2 linked regions of the Homo sapiens genome follow. The protein of the gene in region 2 interacts with the protein of the main gene of each other region in a biochemical or structural test. Each region holds a gene or a part of one and is shown on either strand. Other genes may lie near its edges.

The links.
Region 1: the proteins of LEO1 (region 2) and TCEA1 form a complex in vitro, tested with the Homo sapiens proteins (2 studies listed by BioGRID and IntAct).

What each region holds. Positions count from the first base shown.
Region 1 is NC_000008.11:54,017,888-54,029,210, reverse strand, and holds the start of TCEA1 (transcription elongation factor A protein 1), read left to right. Parts: upstream 1-6,762; 5' UTR 6,763-7,085; coding exon 7,086-7,148; exon of another isoform or gene 7,149-7,178; intron 7,179-11,323.
Region 2 is NC_000015.10:51,951,797-51,963,316, forward strand, and holds part of LEO1 (RNA polymerase-associated protein LEO1), read right to left. Parts: intron 10,698-11,520; coding exon 10,593-10,697; intron 8,938-10,592; coding exon 8,843-8,937; intron 8,249-8,842; coding exon 8,103-8,248; intron 7,031-8,102; coding exon 6,946-7,030; intron 2,780-6,945; coding exon 2,685-2,779; intron 1,468-2,684; coding exon 1,333-1,467; intron 184-1,332; coding exon 48-183; intron 1-47. UniProt on the Homo sapiens protein: Component of the PAF1 complex (PAF1C) which has multiple functions during transcription by RNA polymerase II and is implicated in regulation of development and maintenance of embryonic stem cell pluripotency.

The sequences.
Region 1 (11,323 bases), on a different chromosome or scaffold from region 2:
TTTTTTTATTTTCAATTTTTTGGCAGAGTCTTGCTCTGTCACCCAGGCTGGAGTGCAGTGGTGGGTTCTCAACTCAGTGCAAACTCCACCCCCTGGGTTAGATGATCCTCATGTCTTAGCCTCCCAACTAGCTGGGACTACAGGCGCGCCACCATGCGTGGCTAATTTTTGTATTAGTAGAGACAGGGTTTTGCTATGTTGGTTGGCCAGGCTGGTCTCAAACTCCTGACCTCAAGTGATCTGCTCGCCTCAGCCTCCCAAACTGTTGGGATTACAGGCATGAGCCACTGCACCTGGCCTCAATAAATTTTTGTTTTTATTCATTATTTATTTATTTATTTATTTATTTTTTCTTGAGACAGAGTCTCACTCTTGTTGCCCAGGCTGGAGAGCAATGGCGCGATCTTGGCTCACTGCAACCTCCGCCTCCCGGGTTCAAGCGATTCTACTGCCTCAGCCTCCTGAGTAGCTGGGATTACAGGCGCCCACCACCACGACTGGCTAATTTTTAGTATTTTTAGTAGAGACAGAGTTTCACCATGTTGTCCAGGCTGGTCTCGAACTCCTGATCTCAAGTGATCCACCCGTCTTGGCCTCCCAAAGTGCTGGGATTACAGGCATGAGCCACAGCGCCCGGCCTTGTTTTTATTTCTTTATTTATTTTGAGACAGGGATCTCGCTCTGTCGTCCAGGCTGGAGTGTAGTGGCACAATCATAGCTCACTGCAACCTCTGTCTCCCAGACTCAAGTGATCCTCCCACCTCAGCCTCCCCAGTAGCTGGGAGTACAGGTACATGCCACCATGCTTGGCTATTTTTTTTTTTTTTTTAATTTTTAGTAGAGGTGAGATCTCACTATGTTGCCTCCCTATGGTGTTTGATCTTGAACTCCTGAGCTCAAGCAATCCTCCCACCTCAGCCTTCCAAAATGCTGGGATCACAGGTGTGAGCCACCATGCCCGGCCAAAGAATTTTTAAAAATCATAATCATACAAAGTATTTCTTTAACTATAATGTGATGAAGCTAGATATAAATAACAGAAGGAAAAAGTAATTTCACAATTATGTTCAAATAATACATTCACACAACTTCAAAAAGAAATCAGAAAATAGAACAATATTTTGAGACAAATGAAAACAAAGCTACGATATACCAAAATTTATGAAATGCAGTGAAAACAGTGCTCAGAGGGAAATTTATAGCTCAAAAAGAATAATCTCCGCCAGGTGCAGTGGCTCATGGCTGTAATCCCAGCACTTTGAGAGGCTGAGGCGGGTGGATCACCTGAGGTCGGGAGTTCGAGACCAGCCTGACCAACATGGAGAAACCCCGTCTCTACTAAAAATACAAAATTAGCTGGACGTGGTGGCACGTGCCTATAATCCCAGCTACTTGGGAGGCTGAGGCAGGAGAATTGCTTGAACCCGGGAGGTGGAGGTTGCAGTGAGCAGAGATCACGCCATTGCACTCCAGCCTGGGCAACAAGAGTGAAACTCCGTCTCAAAAAAAAAAAAAGAAGAAAAATCTGACATTAATTACCTAACTTTATGGCTTAAGGAATTGGAAAAAGAGAAGAAAAGTAAACTGCAAAATGTCAGAAGGAAATAATAAAGATTAATTAGAGACAAAAGAAAAGATTAGGGCAGGGAACCATGGCTCATCCCTGTAATCCCAGCACTTTGGGAGGCCAAGGTGGGAGGATCTCTTGAGCCCAAGACATTGAGGCTGTAGTGAGGTATGATTGTGCCACTGCACTCCACCTGAGTGACAGAGCAAAACCCTGTCTCAATAAAATAAAAATTAATAAAATATAATATAAATAAATAACAAAATAAAATACCAAGAATAATTTTAGCCAATGAGGTGAATTTAGCCAAGAGTTGCACACTGAAAATTATGTTATATTGCTTAAAGAAATTAAAATAGATCTAAATAAATGGAAAGATATCCCGTTGTAATGAATTGATAGACTTAATGTTGTTAAAATGGCAATGGTCAATCTTCATGACCTTGGATTTGCAACTCTTTCTGAGATTTGACACCAAAAGCACAAGTAACAAAAGCAATATATGAATTGGACTTTGGTAAAATATAAAGTTTGTGCATGAAAGGTCAATATCAAGAGACTGAAAAGAGGCTGGGCGAGGTGGCCTACATCTGGAATCCCAGCACTTTGGAAGGCCGAGGCGAGAGGATTGCTTGAGTTCAGGAGTTTGAGACCAGCCGGGGCAACATAGTAAGACCCTCTCTCTACAAATAATCCAGAAGTAGCTGGGCATGGTGGTGTGTGCCTGTAGTCCCAGCTACTCAGGAGGCAGAGGCAAGAGATTTGCTTGAACCCAAAAAGTGGAGGCTGCAATGAGCTGTGATCACGCCACAGGACTCAGCTTGGGCGACTGTGAGACCCTGTCTCAAAAAAAAAAAAAAAAAAAGACTGAAAAGATAACCCACAAAATGGGAAGGGAGACAATGATTGAAAAGCATATTTATCTCAAGGCTCTAGAGTCCAGAATTATATAAGAACGTTTACAACTTAACAACATAAACACAACTCAGTTAAAAATTGGGCAAAAGACTAGAATAGACATTTCTCTAAAGAAACCATAGAAGGCCGGGGGAGGTGGCTCATACTTGTAATCCCAGCACTTTGAGAGGCCGACGTGGGTGGATCACCTGAGGTCAGGAGTTCCAGACCAGCCTGGCCAACATGGTGAAGCCCCATCTCTGCTAAAAGTGCGAAAATTAGCCGGGGGTGTTGGTGCTCCCCAGGAATCCCAGCTACTTAGGAGGCTGAGGTGGGAGAATTGCTTGAATCCGGGAGGTGGAGGCTACAGTGAGCTGAGATTGTGCCACTGTAATCCAGCCTGGACTGTTGTCACTCTGTTAGTGAGACCCCATCTCAAAAAAAAAAAAAAAAGAAACCACAGAAATGGCCAACAAGCACATGAAAACATGCTTAACATATTAGGAAAATGCCAATCAAAGACACAATGAGATACCATTTCATACCTCATCAGATAATTAGAATTCTAAAAATGAACTAAACAGGCTGGGCACAGTGTGTCACTCCTGTAATCTCAGCACTTTGGGAGGCCAAGGTGGGCAGATCACCTGAGGTCAGGAGTTCAAGACCAGTCTGGCCAACATGGTGAAACCCAGTCTCTACTAAAAATACAAACCATTCGCTAGGCATGGTGGCAGGCACCTGTAATCCCAGCTACTCCGGAGGCTGAGGCAGGAGAATCACTTGAATCTGGGAGGTCGAGGTTCCAGTGAGCTGAGGTCACGCTATTGCACTCCAGCCTGGGCAATAAGAGCGAAACACTGTATCAAAAAAGAAATAATAAAAATAAAAATAAAGGACAACAACAATTGTTGACAAAGATACAGAGAAGTTCGAGCCCAATGACGTTTCCGATGGGTATGTAAAAATGTTGCAGTTGCTGTGGAAAACAGATGGACAGTTCCTCGAATTTAAATGTAGAATTACCATGAAACCCAACAATTCTACTCCTAGGTTCACACCCAAAAGAACTGAAAACAGGTGTTCCCACAAAACTTTGTACAGGCATGTTCATAGCTGCACTATTCACAAGAGTGAAAATGTGGAGTAGTGAAAGGTGGGTGGAAACAATGCTTATGTCCATCATGTGATGAATGAATTTTAAAAATGTTATCTATAGGAAATGCATATTATTCAGCCATAAAAAGGAATGAAGTACTGACACGGCTACAACACAGGTGAACCTTGAAAACATGCTAAGTGAAAGAAGCCAGTCAGAAAAGGTCACATATTCTAGGATTCTATTTATTAAATATATAAAATGTTCAGAATATTCAAGAGTATAGAGGCAGCCAATTAGTGGTTGCCAAGGGTTGAGGGGAGAAAGGAATCAGGAGTGACTGCTTAATTGATACTGGGTTTCTTTTTGAGGTGATGAACATTTTTGGAAAACTTTTGGGAACTATCGAGTGGTGATGGTGGCACTATATTGTTATCATTAGAAATGCCACTGAATTGTACACTTTTTTATTTTATATTTACTTATTTATTTATGTTTGAGACGGAACCTTGCTCTGTCACCCAGGCTGGAGTGCAGTGGCGCCATCTCAGCTCACTGCAACCTCTACCTCCTGGGTTTAAGCGATTCTCCTGCCTCAGCCTCCCGAGTAGCTGGGATCACAGGCGGCCACCACCAGGACCAGCTAATTTTTGTATTTTTAGTAGAGACGGGGTTTCACTATGTTGGCCAGGCTGTTCTCGAACTCCTGACTTCAGGTGATCCGCCCACCTTGGCCTCCCAAAGTGTTGGGATTACAGGTGTGAGCCACTGCGCCCAGCCAGAGATCTTTATGTTTAAACATAGGTATCTACAGCTATACATTTCCATCTGAGTGTTGCCTTTGCTGTATCCCATGCACACTGGGTATGCACACACCAGGCCTTTACACTTTAAAATAGCTAAAACAGGCCAGGTGAGGTGGCTCACACCTGCAATCCCAGCACTTTGGGAGGCCGAGGTGGGCAGATCACCTGAAGTCAGGAGTTTGAGAACACCCTGCCTAACATAGTAAAATCCCATCTCTACTAAAAATACAAAAATTACCAGGGCGTGGTGGTGGGCACCTGTAATCCTAGCTACTTGGGAGGCTGAGGCAGGAGAATTGCCTGAACCTGGGAGGCAAAGGTTGCAGTGAGCCGAGATCACGCCACTGCACTCCAGCCTGGGTGATAGGCCGAGACTCCGTCTAAAAAAAAATAAAAAATAAAATAAAATGAATTAAAATCTAAAAAAATAGTTAAAAATGGTCTTAGACAAGGTAGCATGAAAAAAGAAGAAAAGTAGTTAAATGGATAAATTTTGTGTTATGTGTATTTTAAAGAAAAACATCAACTGATTCTTTGGGAAAAAAGAAAAATGACAGAATTATTACAATAAATGTACAAATCCACATTATAAAGGGAAATTTTTACATACTCATTAATTGAGGCATGAAGCAGACAGCAAACAGGGATGTAAATATTGCAACATTTTCTGTAGAAAACAATTTTTTTCTGTGTGTTCTTTTTTAGAACACATAGATATGCATAAAAATTGACGAGATAGGCCGGGCGCAGTGGCTCACGCCTGTAATCCCAGCACTTTGGAAGGCCGAGGTGGGCGGATCACCTGAGGCCAGGAGTTCGAGATCGGCCTGGCCAACATGGTGAAACTTTGTCTCTACTAAAAACACAAAAAATTAGCCGGGTGTGCTGGTGGGCGCCTGTAGTCCCAGCTACTCAGGAGACTGAGGCAGGAAAATCGCTTGAACCTGGGAGGTGGAGGTTGCAGTGAGCCAGCCGAGATGGCACCACTGCACTCCAGCCTGGTCAATAAGAGCAAAACTCCGTGTCAAAAAAAAAAAAAAATTGACAAAATAAATCTCAACAAATACTACAATTTAAGCTGGAAATCAATAATAAAAAGATAATTTAAAAATGAAACAAAATAGGGAAACGATCCCAATACTTCTCCCCCAAATGAGTGAGTCATAACCAGGAAAAACCTGTCATCTCAGTATAGAAAGAACATTATTAGGCGGTGTATTTTGATGAATGATAGTTACGTGGTGTGGGAGTTATACCTGCAAATAGCATGAGTTGGTCGTGAAGGGTTTAAGTGGGGAAAGACTTTTTGGAGGAGCCTGCATTCTCCACTATGAACCCTGTCACAACTTAAGTCACCTTCCTCTCTGATCCTCAGAAGCTGGTGGGATGCCTTGTGTAATTTCTGACCAGAAGGTTTCCGTCAACTGTTCTTCAACTATTCAAAATGCCATGCCCAAGACTGGTTCTTAGTACTCCAGGAGCTCACGAACGATTTCACCTTTATTTATTTTTTATTTTTTTTGAGACGGAGTTTCGCTCTTGTCGCCCAGGCTAGAATGCAATGGCAGTCTCGGCTCACCGCAACTTCCGCCTCCCGGGTTCAAACGATTCTCCTGCCTCAGCCTCCCGAGTGGCTGGGATCACAGGCCATGACGCCCGGCTAATTTTGTATTTTTAGTAGTGACGATGTTTCTCCATGTTGGTCAGGCTGGTCTCGAACTCCTCACCTCAGTTGATCCGCCCGCCTCGGCCTCCCAAAGTGCTGGGATTACAGGCATGAGCCACCGCGCCCGGCCGATTTTTTTTAAAAAAAGGAACGCTTAGCCGGGTGCAGTGGCTCAGGTCTGTAATCGCAGCACTTTGGGAGGCCGAGGCGGGCGGATCACTAGGTCAAGAGATCAAAACCATCCTGGCCAACATGGTGAAACCCTGTCTCTACTAAAAATACAAAAAATTAGCAGGGCGTGGTGGCGGGCGCCTGTAGTCCCAGCTACTCGGGAAACTAAAGCAGGAGAATCGCTTGAACCCGGGGGGGGGAGCTTGCAGTGAGTGGAGATCGCGCCACTGTACTCCAGCCAGGCGACAGAACGAGGCTCCGTCTCAAAAAAAAAGGAACTCTTAAAACGAGTAACTCCGTAACCTAACTTAGAGGACACGGGTTCCATTTTTCCCCGTAGCAGTCTCCTATGGAGAAAGTGCTTGGCTTCCCACAGACTTTAAAACCTGCCAAAGTTCCATGCTCGGAATCTGCCCCCGTTTCGAGATACTTGGGCCTCCGCGAGTTCTAAAACTCCGGGATGTCCCGATGCAATAGGGGGCCGAAAACCCGCCCCGTGAGGGGGCGGGACCGGAGGTGAACGCGCAGCAAAACCGGGCGCCTTCCACGACCCTCTAGCCGGAAGCCACGCCTGCCCACTAGCCCGACGCCCGCCTGGCGGGAACATGGGCTCGCCCCTCACCAGCGATCTGCAGTCAGTTGGTAGCGCCTGCACGTCGCGCGCGGTGTTCGATTGTCGCTGCCTGGGGAGGAGGAGCCGGAGCCGCCGCCGCCGCCGCCGCCGCCGCGGGCTTCGTTCGTAAGGAAGGGGGCCTAGGCCCGGGCCTGCGGTGGTGGGGGTTGCTGCGCGCCGGGGGTCGCTCCTGCTGTGTCTTCCGCTCCAGCTTCGCCCACTTCCCCTTGCCAGCGGGGTGGGCGCGGAGAAGACCTGCCGGAGCCATGGAGGACGAAGTGGTCCGCTTTGCCAAGAAGATGGACAAGATGGTGCAGAAGAAGAACGCGGTGAGCGCGGCGAGCGGCGCGGGCCGGGAGGGAGGCCGGGCCGCGGTCCGGCCCGAGGGGGCCGCCCCCTCCCTCCTTCTCCCTCCCCTCCCCCTGCAGCCTCCCGTCTGGGAGCCGGGCCCGCCGCGCCCGCGTCCCCGGGGAGGGTGTCCGGGCCCGGGGCGTCGGGTCCCGCGGCAACCTGCGTTAGGACCCGCTCGCTCTTGTATTTCCAGTCCCTGCTCGCTGGTGCCGTGTAATAAACCTAATCGATTTAGGGATTAGGGCACGCTCTCCGTTGACTTTAAACTTTCGTGCTAGTAAAACCTTGGCAATTTAGCTTAGGAATTGAAGCGTAGAAAGTCCTCAGAACTTGAAAGAATGGAGTCTTCCGTGATCCGTGGCCAACATCTAGAAAGAGCATCAAATAGAGGCTTGTGATCGGTATTAGACATCGGGCTGGTAAAATGTAAAACTTCTGTGTCTTATTTTTGAAGAGGGCTGAACGTCCGCCTGGTTATCTCAACTGTGCTACATGTTTGCTTAGCGATTAAAAAGGTAAAGTGTGCCAGTTTCTTGGCGAGTTGCTAAACGTTTTATAAAAAGCGGGTTTTGTCCTGTCGTAATGTACAGAAGAGTTAGGACTACAGCACGCACACTCACCGGAATGCTGGTAGAGGGATTTGGACAAATTATATTGTTGGGTATTTTCTAAGTGGTTTACAGTTAATACTGGTGGCATTTTTTTTGTTATTGATGAATATTCATGTAAGCATATGCTTTTGTGGTTTGTAAGAAATCCTCATACGACCAGTTTCTACAGCTTGCCCATTTGTGTGGCACTTTCAGTCCCTTGCTTCAGACTCATCTGTTCTTAGCTAAACATATTTTTTCGAGACGGAGTTTAACTCTTGTTGCACAAGCTGGAGTGCAATGGCTTGATCTCGGCTCACTGCAACCTCCGCCTCTCGGGTTCAAGTGATTCTCCTGCCTCAGCCTCCCGAGTAGCTGGGATTACAGACGTGCGCCACCACGCCTGGCTATTTTTTTGTATTTTTAGTAGAAACGGGGTTTCACCATCTTAACCAGGCTGGTCTCGAACTCCTGACCTCAGGTGATCCGCCCACCTCAGCCTCCCAAAGTGCTGGGATTACAGGCGTGAGGCCACTGCGCCTGGCCTCTCAGGTAAACTTATATAATTGTCCTCACCTAAATTTGTTTAACCACGTTCGGCACATTTTCATCATCAGTGTACCTGAAATAATTTTTCTTCCATCTATGAAGTAAATTCCATGTCAAACTAATGTGAAGAGAAAAGGGATGCTCTGATTTGTACAGCACTTTGGAGTTAAAAAGCATCTGCTCAAAATTCTTTTGTGACTCACACAGAGCTGTGAGTACATAAAGGGTATCCATTTTACAGATTAAGACACTGAGAGAGATTAAGTACTACTACTTAAATTAAGTACTGTGTAGTTTGGAATAAGCCAGGACCCAGGTTTTCTTCTGGACAGCATGCTTTCCACATGACAGCTAGATCAGGAATTAGTGTTAACACTAAATACGTAAGACTTCAAACATCCTCTGTTCCCCTTTTTCCTTTAACAGGTGCATTGCCTCGTATTTCATTTCATACCCTGTTAATCTGTATTTGCAAATTTTGGCCTTTTAAAGTATTTCCTGTTTATTTTCTGTTCTAGATATTACCAGTGCCATTTTTCCTCCCCATTGATATGGCCCTTCATTTCCCACTTCAAATTCTGGTTATTTGATAGGTTATCTGGTTATTGGAACATTTTCGTTATTTTGTTTAAACTGGAAGATTTTTCTCTGGTCTGGAGATCCCCAGACTTGCACAGTAGAAGCTCCCAGGGAAAAAAAGCCATTTGTTGGGTAATGTTCTCTCCAACTTAGGCTGTAATATGTATCCTTTAATCATCTAATGCATTAGATGTTTGCTTGATTTTGTTTCTTTCCTTGTAATAATGTTTCTAAGTAATTTTTTAGTGGGCAGGTGTGGAGAAGATAAATTCATATTTATCTGCAGTTCTCAAATCGTCAACAAATTTTCAGATCTTTTGTAATGAGTCTGGAAGAGAATGAGAATAAACTCCACAAATAATCCTCAAATCTAAGTTTTCTTCTCAAATCTAAGTTTTCAGGTAGTTCAAAACTTTTCCAGTATGAAAACTTGCCTCCCAAAAAGAAAGGTAAAACTGACTGGCTCTTGTACTTTTGTTTTCCCCAGCATTTTCCCTGCCTGTCCTCTGGAAATTCAAACAGGCTGATGAAATACAGAGAAAGAGAAATGGTCAGAATGACACTCCTCTTTTCCCCAACTGCATCATCAGCCTACAGATGGCTTTTTAAGTGTTCAGTAATTCAACAAAATGTGTTTTAGGGGTTGTAGAATTATGGTATATGTGTTTCTCTTTTTTTCGGTAGTTTTCAGATTTTTCTCTCAGCTTTTTTAATGTTTTATATTATGAAAAAGTTAACTTTTTTTTTTTTTTTTTGAGACAGTGTCACTCTGTTACCCAGGCTAGAGTGCAGTGGTGCAATCTCGGCTCACTGCAACCTCCGCCTCCCCAGTTCAAGCGATTCTCTTGCCTCAGCCTCCCTAGAAGCTGGGACTACAGGTGTGCACCACCATGCCTGGCTAATTTTCGTATTTTTAGTAGAGATGGGATTTCAACGTATTGGCCAGGCTGGTCTTGAACTCCTGATCTCAGGTGATCTGCCCGTCCTGGCCTCCCAGAGTGCTGGGATTACAGATGTGAGCCACTGCGCCCAGCCTGAAAAAGTTAACTTTGAAGAGTAATAGTTGTCATCAGAATTGACAAATTTAAGTGCAAATTTAGATATCATTTAAAAAAATATTTTAACATGCTGCTGCTTTACCTGAATAATTTTGTTTTACTAAAACCATAGGTGTCACACTTAACTAAAAACAGCTTACCATTTATTGAGCTATTACTCTGAGCCAGGTATTCTGCTAAATACTTACCCACCTTATCCCATTTATTCCTCAGGCAACTTTGCAAGATGAGTATTATCCTCATTCTGAAAATGAGGATGCTAAGTATTTAGAATAGTCTTAAGCCAAATAGCTAGTGAATGGCCAAGTGAAGATGTGAATCTAAATCTGTTTTGCTCCAAAGCTAGTACTCCTCTCTTAAGCTACAGTGTCTCTCTAGAAGACCCTTGCATCTGCTCTTGAACCATGCATGGATACAATTAAGTGAATACAAAATCAGGAAGTAAGAGTATGAACTTGCTGTTTTGGGGCAGGTGTGTTTCCCTAGTTACCTAGATCAATATCCTGACCCTAGTTCTACCCAAGATGTTGTCCCACATGTGTACTTGATCTCAAGTGCACATGACCAAGCCACAGTGAACCACAGAAAGTAGTTCGAAATTTTTAGGTATTAGCTGTTTTCTGCTTAAGCTGTTTTCTTGTCACTTTGATTCGGTGTCAGTAACCAAGTCTGACTGCTAATGTGGGTTCAAATCCTGGCTTTTCTGAACTTTTCTGAACTTTAGCTGTGTGATTTTAGGCAAGTTCTTTGTCATCACTAAAATGTTTCTCGTCATGGTAAACTGGAGATAATTTAGTAAGGATTAAGTGAATATAAAATGCTTCTAGTGTAGGATTGTGGGCCTAAAGGATGTAATAAGGCCTAAAAAACAATCTGAGGTTGCCTTTCTTTGTAAAGGATTCATTTAGATTATAGAAGGAGGAGTGAGGCAAGGACATAAAGTTTTGAAGTTCATGGAGAGATTTTGTGGGTAGTGCTGAGGTTTATTTATTTATTTCATTGAAGGCTCAAGGTTGAGTGGAATTAAATTGCAGGGAGAGAAATTGAAATTAGATGTTAGAATTTCGTAGGAGCTGGGATACCTGAAATATTGATTTACATTTCCAAGTACCTCAGTTAAAATAACAACTGCAACAAAACTTTGATATCTATATCAGAGTTAGATTAATTAGCATAATTCAAAATTTAGAATGACTATACAATTTTTAATAACAGCTTTATCGAGAAATAGAATTAAATTCATTCTTAAAGTGTAGTTGACTCTTGAACAATGCAAGGGTTGTGGTGCTCACACTATCCCCCCTCCCTACCCGCATGCAGTCAAGTAGTATAACTTTTGTAGTAGTATAACTCATGCAGTCATGTCACTCAGGCTGG
Region 2 (11,520 bases):
AATATACCAAAGAATCCCAGGATAACGCTTAGGCTTAGCAAACATACCTTAATCATTTCTGTGCGTTGGCATTCAGGATCACGACCAGCCATTGGCAAGATTCTAATCTTCTGTGTCTTTGAACACCTATCTGCAAGTGACAGAGTCATCTTTCTATGTGTGGCACTGTCCGTAGAGTGAGGTCTGCCAGGAAATAAACGAAGAGCATATCACTGTTTACCAAATACATTTGTGAGCCAGTGATACCCACGTCACAGAAGTAAGAGCCCAGTGACCATTTCCTAGTCACCTGAAAAAATAGGCAGAGACACTCGACTGAATATACCAAGGTGGAAGATTGTGAGTTTTCTTCATTCTGTGGCTCACTGAGACATTCTTATTCCACAAATGAAAAACAGAAGGTTGGAGTAAAAAAGATTGTATGGCATGATCACCTTCTAGAAGCAATAAATGGATACGCTCAAGCAACATTAATTAGATACTACAGGTTGGTGCAAAAGTAATTGCGGTTTTTGCCATTACTTTTAATTAATATTAATATATTAATATTAATATAATTATCCTATTTTATAGATTTAGGAAACTGAGGCAAAAAGAGGTTAAGAAAGTGGCACAAGGTCACACAAGTAGAAATGGAATTCAAATATGAGTCTAACTGATTCCAAAGCCTGTATGTTAACCTTTATAATTTCAAAAAGCTAAATCATAACCAACATTATTGTGCCCCCTCTAAAGATAAGCATTACCCAAAGAGGATGGTCTGCTTATAATCAAGAAAGAGAAGCATGAACATCTCAGTGCAGCACATACTCAGTCTAGAGAAGGAAAGTGCCCTCACCAGCTGAGTATTCCTGTCCTCTTGGGGGACACACCTCTGCAGTGGTATTAGATGCCGGGGCCTACGGCACTGAGATGGCCCGTCTCACACTGACCAACTTGCTGGCTTTCCTTCGATTGCATGCACAACAACAACCTCTAGTTATTAGTCTCCCAGGTCAATTTTACTAAAAACAAAGGACACACTGGCTAGCAGACACACGTATTTTAGGCCTCTTGGCAGTTATAATAACCACTGGAATTAAATACATTGACATTCTGGTTTACCTAACAGTCTCTTGTAAGTCTGGTTAGCATGACCTGGTTCCCTAAGAAACAGCAACTTTTAGTGTATTTGACAAAATAACCTTTGAACCTTCAGAACTATGCACAAGATCTTGGTTCTTGCTGAATCATACCGTGGGGTTACATCAATCAGGTGGCAGGCATTACAGAAACATCTATGTTTCACTGCTTTTACCATAAGAAATAATACATAATAATAATAACAGTTACCTGAAGGTGAGTTTCGTTTTAAAGACTGCTTGTCCCTGTAGACCAGTACCTTGTCTTATAAAAAGATGATTGTGGTCGCCCTGCAGTGGGGCTTTGTACACATCAAACACTTCATTGCCTAAATGCAGGGACATGCTGGAAAGAGAAACATTTCATCTATTAAAGTCATAAAGCTTTCACTCTACCATCTTACTTCACTTAAAGGTGATTCAGGCTGGGCACAGTGGCCCACATGTGTAATCCCAGCACTTTGGGACACCAAGGCAGGTGGATCACGAGGTCAGGAGTTTGAGACAAGGCTGGTCAACATGGTGAAACCCCATCTCTGGTAAAAATACAAAAATCAGCTAGGCATGGAGGCACACCCCTGTAGTCCCAGCCTTCGGGAGGCTGAGACAGGATAACTGCTTGAACCCGGGAAGTGGAGGTTGCAGTGAGCCAAGATCGTGCCACTGCACTCCAGCCTGGGCGACAGGACAAGACTCCATCTCAAGGAAAAAAAAAAACAAAACAAAACAGGTGATTCAACTGCTGCTCTCTCTTTTTACACAGAATTTGGAAGGAACGAAAATAAGAAGTCATAATGAGAAAAACTGATGGACTACAAAGAACTAACACATGCTGGGATGTTTACCAGGCTCTACTACATTCCCAGTGAAGGGCAATTTTTTTAAAATGTCAATTTGTGGCTGGGCACGGTGGTTGACGCCTGTAATCCCAGCACTTGGGAGATGGGAGGATCGCTTGAGCCCAGGAGTTCAAGACCAGCCTAAGCAACATATGGAGAACTGTGTCTATGAAATTTTTTCTTTTTTTTTTTTTTGAGACGGCATCTAGTTCTGTTGCCCAGGCTGGAGTGCAGTGGCGCGATCTCGGCTTACTGCAACCTCCGCCTCCTGGGTTCAAGGAATTCTCTGCCTCAGCCTCCTGAGTAGCTGGGATTACAGGCGTCCGCCATCACACCCAGCTAATTTTTAGTAAAGATGGGGTTTCACCATCTTGGCCAGGCTGGTCTTGAACTCCTGACCTCGTGATCCACCCACCTCGGCCTCCCAAAGTGCTGGGATTACAGGCGTGAGCCACCGTGCCTGGCTCTTTTTTTTTTTTAATAATCCATGCAGGGTGGTGCACACCAAGTAGTCCCAGCTACTTGGGAGATGGGAGGATCACTTAGGACTAGGAGTCTGAGGCTCCACTGAGCTGTTATCATGTCATTACACTCCAACATGGGCAACAGAGTGAGACCCCATTTCTAAAACTAATAATAAATTTAAAACTAAAAAGTATTTCAAAACTTGATCCCTCTGACCCGTTCTGGGTATGTCAATACCCTTCAGGCGTTTTGTGCTCACCTTCCATCTGACCACTTGACTATCCGAGCATTGCTTTCTTTAATTTCATTTCCTTCTTCATCTCGGCGTATCCTCCATCTTATAGTATTTTCTACCTGTTTCACAACACAAGTACTTTAGAAAATTATAGTTTAAATGACTCTATGCATCTTGTTTTTCCTCAAGAGGCACATAATCACAGAATAAGCATACAGAGGTGACAGATGTATGTGTGGCAGGAGAATGAACAACACTGAAACCCTCTTTAATCACCTAGAGAGGTTGGATAAATTAAAAGCAGGGAAAAAAATATGCTTAAGTGAATTTCTGAGCTCCTAGAATCATAATCATAGAGAAAGCTTAGAGCATTTGAGCAGATGGCAGATACTAAATGTACACTAACCCCGAGATGTGTTAAGACAGTAAGAATTACAAGGGTCAGGCGATAAAACTTGAGTCCATGTGAGGCAGAAATTTTTTTTTTTTTTTTTTTTTGAGACGGAGTCTTGCTCTGTCGTCCAGGCTGGAGTGCAGTGGCGCAGTCTTGGCTCACTGCAAGCTCCGCCTCCCGGGTTCACGCCATTCTCCTGCCTCCGCCTTCTCAGTAGCTGGGATTACAGGCGCCCACCTCCAAGCCCGGCTAATTTTTTCATATTTTTTAGTAGAGACAGGGTTTCACCGTGTTAGCCAGGATGGTCTCGATCTCCTGACCTCATAATCCGCCCGCCTGGGCCTCCCAAAGTGCTGGGATTACAGGCGTGAGCCACCACGCCCGGCCGAGGAAGAAATTTTGAAGTGAAACCCCTGTATAAAGCAAGTTCTCTCACAGAGCTAAAAACTCCATAAAAATGAGACCAAAAACTCTGCCTATTGGCACAGAGAGATAAACTTCCCATATATGAATAAGGATAAATAAGTGCCCTATGAAAATGAAAACCCCAGATTTCAATAGGTTTAGAGCCTAACTATCTTACCTGCATGGTGGGGAAACACCAGAGTTGGCAAATGAAAACCACTGTTACTGAAAGTAAAGTCAGTGGGATCTCCAGGAAAACATGGCATACTAAACGCATGCAGTTTATCACTGCTGCCTCCTGGAAACCCACTAAAATGACAATGAAGAGTAAAAACAGGACATACAAGGATAGAAAGAATGAGAATGAAGCTGGCAACAGACAGAAGCCAACAATGTGAAAACTGCCAATGCCAAGACCATGCTTCCCTCTGCCTGTTCCCCCAGTGTCAATCCTAAACACAGCTGCTCCCAGTCCCACGGAGATCGTCTGGATCTCCACTCCTTTAGCTGCAAATGTCTGTGCAGCTGGGTCCTAATGATTCCCCCTTCCAGTTTTTCCCCTTTCCCTATTTATTCCTCACAAATAGCTATAAAGTGTGCTGATTGAATAACTCCATCATATTTATGAATTAAACATGATGTCATACCTGAAATTTGTTTCAGAATAGTCTGGGGAAGCTGGGGTGGGGAATATGTAGATGACAAAAGATTGTTAACTCGACAACTGTTGAAGTGGGTCATGGGCACATGAAAGAGTTCATTATATTGTTTTTAATACATTGGTGTATGTTTGAAATTTTCAGATTGAAAACAAAACAATCTGTCACTATTCCTGTCTTCCATCTCATACAATAGGTTGGCCACATATAAATACACAAATATGCCGGGTGCAGGGCTCACACCTGTAATCCCAGCACTTTGGGAGGCCGAGGCAGGCAGATCACCTGAGGTCAGGAGTTCAAGACCTACCTGGCCAACACAGTGAAACCCCATCTCTGCTAAAAATATACAAAAATTACCCGGGCATGGTGGCATGTGCCTGTAATTCCAGCTACTCGGGAGGCTGAGGCTGGAGAATTGCTTGAACCCGGGAGGCGGGGGTTGCAGTGAGCTGAGATTGCGCCACTGCATTCCAGCCTGGGCGACGACAGAGCAAGACTCCATCTCAAAAAAAAAAAAAAAAAAACCACAAATAGGCCATTATTAATTGAGAAGCCGTTCTAAAAAATGCTTTCTATTATATAAAGTGATTCAAATAGTAATGATGCTATAATAGGACACATTGCTAGGTCTTAACCTATCAGGATGAAGGACACATAATAGTATTTCTGAAGACAGGGGACCTCAGAGAGGTACATAAGCTGTACCTGGTTCCCTGGTTCCTTGTTCTTAAAGAATTAACTACACCATGCTTTAAGACTGGTCAGCGTAGTCTTAAACATCACTCAAGAAAATAAGGGTCCAGGGTTATTTCCTATCACACACCAAGGTTTTAAGACAACAGTTTATGTTAAACACCAACATTTTGTAGTCTGATGCACTGAAATTTTAGGGTAAAATACATATTTATAAATTTTTTTTTGGGGGGGAGACAGGGTCTCGCTGTGCTGCACAGGCTGGAGTGCAATGGCACAATCACAGCTCACTGCAGCCTCAAACTCCTGGGCTCAAGCAATCCTCCCGCCTCAGCCTCCTGGAGTAGCTGTGACTATGGGCATGCGCCATCTCTGCTGGCTAATTTTTTTTTATTTTTAGTAGAGACAAGGTCTTGCTCTGTTGCTCAGGCTGGTCTGAAACTCCTGGCCAGTCTTCTCACCTCGGCCTCCCAAGGTACTGGAATTACAGATATGCGGCACCATGCCCGGCCTTTGAAGTCTGACACCCATACTAGAATCTGGTATCACATGGTCTAAAAATATAATAGATATATTGATACTAGCTGTAGCATCATGACAGAAAGTAAGAAAAAGGAAAAAGACAAAATTAAATAAATTGATAAAAAGTGAATAAGGAACTACTATATTAGTTTATATGTATATGACAGGAAACAATGAAAAGTAGTAGAATTAAAGCCAGAGGCACTAAAACAACCATGAAAAATTGATACTGCTAAGCCTAAATCAATACATCCATGTGTCCCAAAGAAATAATATTAACAGATGGGCTAATAAACAGATGAGTAGATGGGTGGTGGAGGGAGGACAGGAAAAAAAAATAGTGTAAGCAGTATATCTGTTGACTGTGTGATCTTGAACAAATTATTAGCACCTGTTTATCTCAGTTTTCTTATTTGATTTGCATTTCCATTAAGAGGAGTAGTGAAGTCTCACTGAAAAGCTTTTGGATAGAAACCATCTTATATCAAGGTTATTTAGGTAGTTGTTAATATACCACATTGAAGAGATGGTACTATTAAAAATATAAAAATTCAGTGCCTAAAAAATGCCAGACTATCCCTTTCTAACAATTTAATAAGGTACCAAGGCCAGGCGCGGTGGCTCACACCTGTAATCCCAGCTCTTTGGGAGGCCGAGGTGGGTGGATCACCTGAGGTCAGGAGTTCGAGACCAACCTGGCCAACATCGTGAAACCCTGTCTCTACTAAAAATACAAAAATTAGCTGGGCATGGTGGTGCATGCCTGTAGTCTCAGCTACTTGGGAGGCTGAGGCAGGAGAATCACTTGAACCCAGGAGGCAGAGGTTGCAGTGAGCTGAGATCATGCCACTGCCCTCCAGCGTGGGCGACACAGCGATGCTCCTTCTCAAAAAAAAATATATAAATACCCACTAGAAAATAAGAAATTTACAGGAAATCCTTCGGATTTAAGAATTGAAAATGCATAATTCCAGTTTCAGTATCATGCATTCAACCACCTCTTGTTCCCTTGTGCAACTCAATTCTAAAATGTCTACTTGGCCAAGTGCAGTAGCAATCATGCCTGTAATCCCAGCAATTTGGGAGGTCAAGGCGGGAGGATCACTTGAGCTCAGAAGTTCAAGATCAACCTGGGCAACACAGCAAGACCTCATATCTACAGAAAAAAAAAAAAGGCTGGGCATGGTGGCATGTTTTCTGTAGTCCCAGCTACTCAGGAGGCTGAGATGGGAAGATCACTTGAACCCAGGAAATTGAGGCTGCCAAGAGCTGGGTTTGTGCCGCTGTACTCCATCCTGAACAACAGAGCAAGACCGTGTCTCAAAATAAAAAGATGAAACTTCTGCTGAACCTACATCCTCCTTACTTAAAAGATTAGAGGCCCTCCTTTGATAGCGTGACCAGATGGTATAAGGTATCAAAGAGAAGCATTAATGGGAATTTAGTACAATAAAATTCTTTCCTAATAGTCAACAAAAGCAATCAAAAGAACACAGCCATATAGTGAAGTGTTAGGTAAAAAAATCACTTTCAAAAGCTCAAGTTTCAAGTTAGTATCTCCAGGTTTTACTTTATAAAAGAAAAAAAAGGAAAAAGCATGAAATGGTACCTTTAATTTTAACCTGGTTCTACCTTCTTCATCCAGCATTTCTTCATCTTCAAATTCATCTTCATAATACTGAGGATCAAAAGGTCTACAAATTGTTTTCCAAATAAACTATTAATCATATTTTATAAAGAATATTACTGCTATGTAATAACATCTCTATTAATAAACACCATTATATCAAAAAATCATAATATAATTTTAAAAATCATAATGATCAATATCTTCATGCTTAACTTCAAGGAAGTAGTAATTGTACTTTTTTCTTTTTTTTTTTTTTTGAGACCGAGCTTTGCTCTTGTTGCCCAGGCTGGAGTGCAATGGCACGATCTCGGCTCACCACAACCTCCGCCTCCCAGGTTCAAGCGATTCTCCTGCCTCAGCCTCCCGAGTAGCTGGGATTACAGGAATGCGCCACCATGCCTGGCTAATTTTGTATTTTTAGTAGAGACAGGGTGTTTCTCCATGTTGGTCAGGCTGGTCTCAGACTCCTGACCTCAGGTGATCCGCCCTCCTCGGCCTCCCAAAGTGCTGGGATTATAGGTGTGAACCACCACACCCGGCCAGTAATTTTACTTCTTAAAATTTGTTGTTAATACATATTGCTTGAAATAAAGTACAAGCAAGGGTAAATATTCAAAATATCCTTTCTTCTTCTTATGTAACTCTGCCAAAGAATAGGCAACATATGCTCTAGCTTTCCACATCATTGTGCCTGTGGAAAAAAAATTTTAAAAGCACAAGAGCTCGAGTAAACTTAGTAAATAATACCCATCAAACACTGTCTAATTGTCCAAAACCATTACCTTTTCTAGACCAACAATAGCTGCTACAGTGGACACTGGCATTTCTCTAGCAAATTTCATCGCTTTCAATTTCAGCCTTTTCAGGGTTGTACTAATTAAAAAAATACCTTGAACACTTGTGGTGTCTGTTAATTCATAAGAAAGTATCAAACTGCTAAAAACAATCATAGCATTAAAAGCCTCCCTTACTAATACATATTTTTTCTATCTCAGGATGTGCTTGACTAATTTTTTCAGAGATACACGATCAATTTTCCGTTTTTGTGATTTGTCAACTCAATGCGAAATAAGAAAAATAAACATTCTATGTATTTCTACTCAACATCCTGAAAAAATTTTAATTGATTTCCTTACCTGGGCTCTACACTGAGAAAGTTGGGCAGTTTAACAAAATATAAGTCGTTTCCTAAATCAGTGTTTACTTTGGGTATTTCTACTTCTATTCTGGTCTCAGGAATTGGCTCCTCTTCCTGTTGATCCTGAGGCAATCCATTTTCATCCTAGTGAAAGAATCGGAAGTTTGGAGCTTGACAGGACCTTAGAAATGGCTTCCTTCAACCTCCACACTTTAATTACTCTGGGGTGCAAGAAACATAATTAGATATCACTTTAGGACTAAAGAAGTCCCCAGTCCCCATCCCAACCCACCTACACACAAAATGGGAAACGATCAATTTGGATACCTCAGTACAAAAAACTATCTCCTTTATGATAAATCTGTCTTCCAAATACTCAACAAAAGTGTGAAATTAACACTTCAATAGGAAGTCACTCTATCAATTAAAACCAGAGAAGATTATCAACATAGCAGACACTTCTTGGCATGAGCAAGAAAAACATTCAAGTCAATGGTTCTCAAATCACAAGTCCTCACAGTTCAGTCCCCTAAGGCATGACACCAACCTCATGTTTGGCAGTTATTTCCACTCCCCCTTATAACCAAGAGTTCCCTACATAATGAAGAAAGTCATCTGTTCATGGTATTTTCATACTAGAATTCAGTTATCAACTTCCTTTCCTGGAATAAGGGAGACTCTTCACCTTTGAAACTTTATGCCTGGCCTTGAATAAGTTCATGTTACTAACTGACTTACAACAGGCTGTCCTGGAGTAGGTGGTTTGTCTTCTCCATCACTCCCTGAAGAGATATCATCTGCACCTCCAAATAAATCCATGGTTCCACTATTATCTTCAATGCAGAAGGAAAAAGGCATTAGTGTTACTATCTGTAACTAAGGTTCTTCACAGCTGATCACTTCAACACATTCCCAAGGTTTCTGGACCAGCATCAGAAAACCACCAAAAACATAATGCTGAGCCTGGCTCTCAAAGACCCAACCAGAGAGTGTGGGGAGAGGGAAGGGGGCAAATCTAGTGAAAGGCAAGCTGCACAGGAGGCACTTATTTCTCCTTTCATTTTCACCATCCTTGTTCTCCCACTTTCCTTTATTCCCCAGGAGCCCAAATGTTTCCTACAGTCTAGATGCTCAAAGTTGGGGCTGAAGCACTCCACAGACACCCATTTTCCATAAGTCTATCCCAGATTCAAAATTACAGTCCAGGCATAGTGGTTCATGCCTGTAATCCCAGCACTTTGGGAGGCCAAGGCAGGTGGATCACTTAAGGTCAGGAGTTTGACACCAGCCTGACCAACATGGTGAAACCCCGTCTCTACTAAAAATACAAAAACTAGCTGGGCTTGGTGACAGGTGCCTGTAATCCCAGCTACTTGGGAGGCTGAGGCAGGAGAAAGGAAGCTGCCACACCTGGCGGTAGAACTCCTTTCATCCTTCCAACTTATAATACCAGGTGGTGGTGGTGGTGGTGGTGGTGGTGGTGGTGGTTGCGGTTGTTGTTGTTGTTTTGAGACAGAGTCTCACTGTTGTTGCTCAGGCTGGACTGCAGTGGTGCGACCTTGGCTTACTGCAACCTCTGCCTCCCGAGCACAAGCGATTCTCGTGCCTCAGCCTCCCAAGTAGCTGGGACTACAGATGCACACCACCTCGCCCCGCTAATGTTTTGTATTTTTAGTACAGACAGGGCTTCACCATGTTGGCCAAGCTGGTCTTGAACTCCTGGCCTCAAGTGATCCACCCACCTTGGCCTCCCAAAGTGCTGGGATTACAGGCGTGAGCCACTGCACCCAGCCAACACTGGGTTTTTATGAGCTCTTCATCTAACTCACAGCTCAAAGAATCAGTTTCTTCATCTAAGTCAAGAACTTAGGAACAAAACACCGAGACTGTCATTATTCAAAGTGAAGAATGGACATTGTAACCTCCATCCCAATAAGAAGGTCAGCCCCCTAATAATGAATTCACTCTAACTATAAACAGACTGGGCGCAGTGATTCACGCCTGTAATCCCAGCACTTCGGGAGGCTGAGGTGGGTGGAACACTTGAGATCAGGAGTTCGAGACCAACCTGGCCAACATAGTGAAACCCCACCTCTACTAAAAATACAAAAAATTTAGCCAGGCATGGTGGTACGTTCCTGTAATTCCAGCTACCAGGAGGCTGAGGGAGGAGAATTGCTTGAACCCAGGAGGCAGCAGTTGCAATAAGCTGAGCTTGCACCACTGCACTCCAGCGTGGGTGACAGAGCAAGACTCTGTCTCTTAAAAAAAAAAAAAAAAACTACAAAGAGGCAGGTTCTTCTTCAACTAATTAAGCATGAGCAGCTTCTCATAGCTATATAACTTCTCTGAGTACACTGAGCGTATCCACACTCTTATTCTGTGGGTCTGGCGATCTGGGGTAAACACACTCAGGGTTAGAAATGCACTACAGTTAAATACAGAAAGAGGTATGGAAATATACATATATATATAATAATAGGGATACCTTTTGGCACCTCAGTGTCACTATCCGCTTCTGAATCAGATGCAATCGCATTCTTGCGTTTCATTCGTAAAACTTCATCTTCACTATCACTGCCTCTTGCAGATTCTATAAGGGTAGAATTAGAAGTTCTGCATAATCAGTCGCATTAGTTGAATTTTGTGTTTTAAAAGCAATATTGGAGATAAACAAATTGTGATACAATGGACTACTACTCAGCAATAAAGAGGAATGAACTGCTGATACATGTAACCAATTGGATGAATCAAAAATGCTATATGCCAAGTTAAAGAGGCCAATCTGAAAGACTACATACTTACTGTATAACTCTATTTATATGACATTTCCAAAAAACCAAAAGTTTAGTGACAGAAAAGACCAGTAGGTGCCAGGGTTTAGGGGTAGCAGAAAGATACGACTCAAAAGGGATAGCATAAGGGAGTTTTTCAGTGTGACAGCGATTCTGCATCCTGAGTGTGGTGGTGGTTAGACAAATCTATAGATATGTTAACATGAATAGAGCTGTACATGCAGAACATGCCCCCCCCCCAAAAAATTAACTCTAGTGTGTGTTAATTTAAAAAACAGAATTCTTAAAATAAATACTGGTGCCAGTTGTGGTGGCTCATGCCTGTAATCCCAGCACTTTGAGAGGACGAGGTGGGTGGATCACTTGAGGTCAGGAATTCAAGACCAGCCTGGCCAACATGGTGAAACCCATCTCTACTACAAATACAAAAATTAGCCGGGTGTGGTAGCGTGCACCTGTAGTCCCAGCTACTTAGGAGGCTGAGGCAAGAGAATCATTTGAACCTGGGAGACTGATGGTGCAGTGAGCCAAGATCGCACCACTGCACTCCAGCCTGGGTGACAGAGCGAGACTGTCTCAAATAAATAAATATACTGGCTTTGCAAGTACAAAAACTTGGTA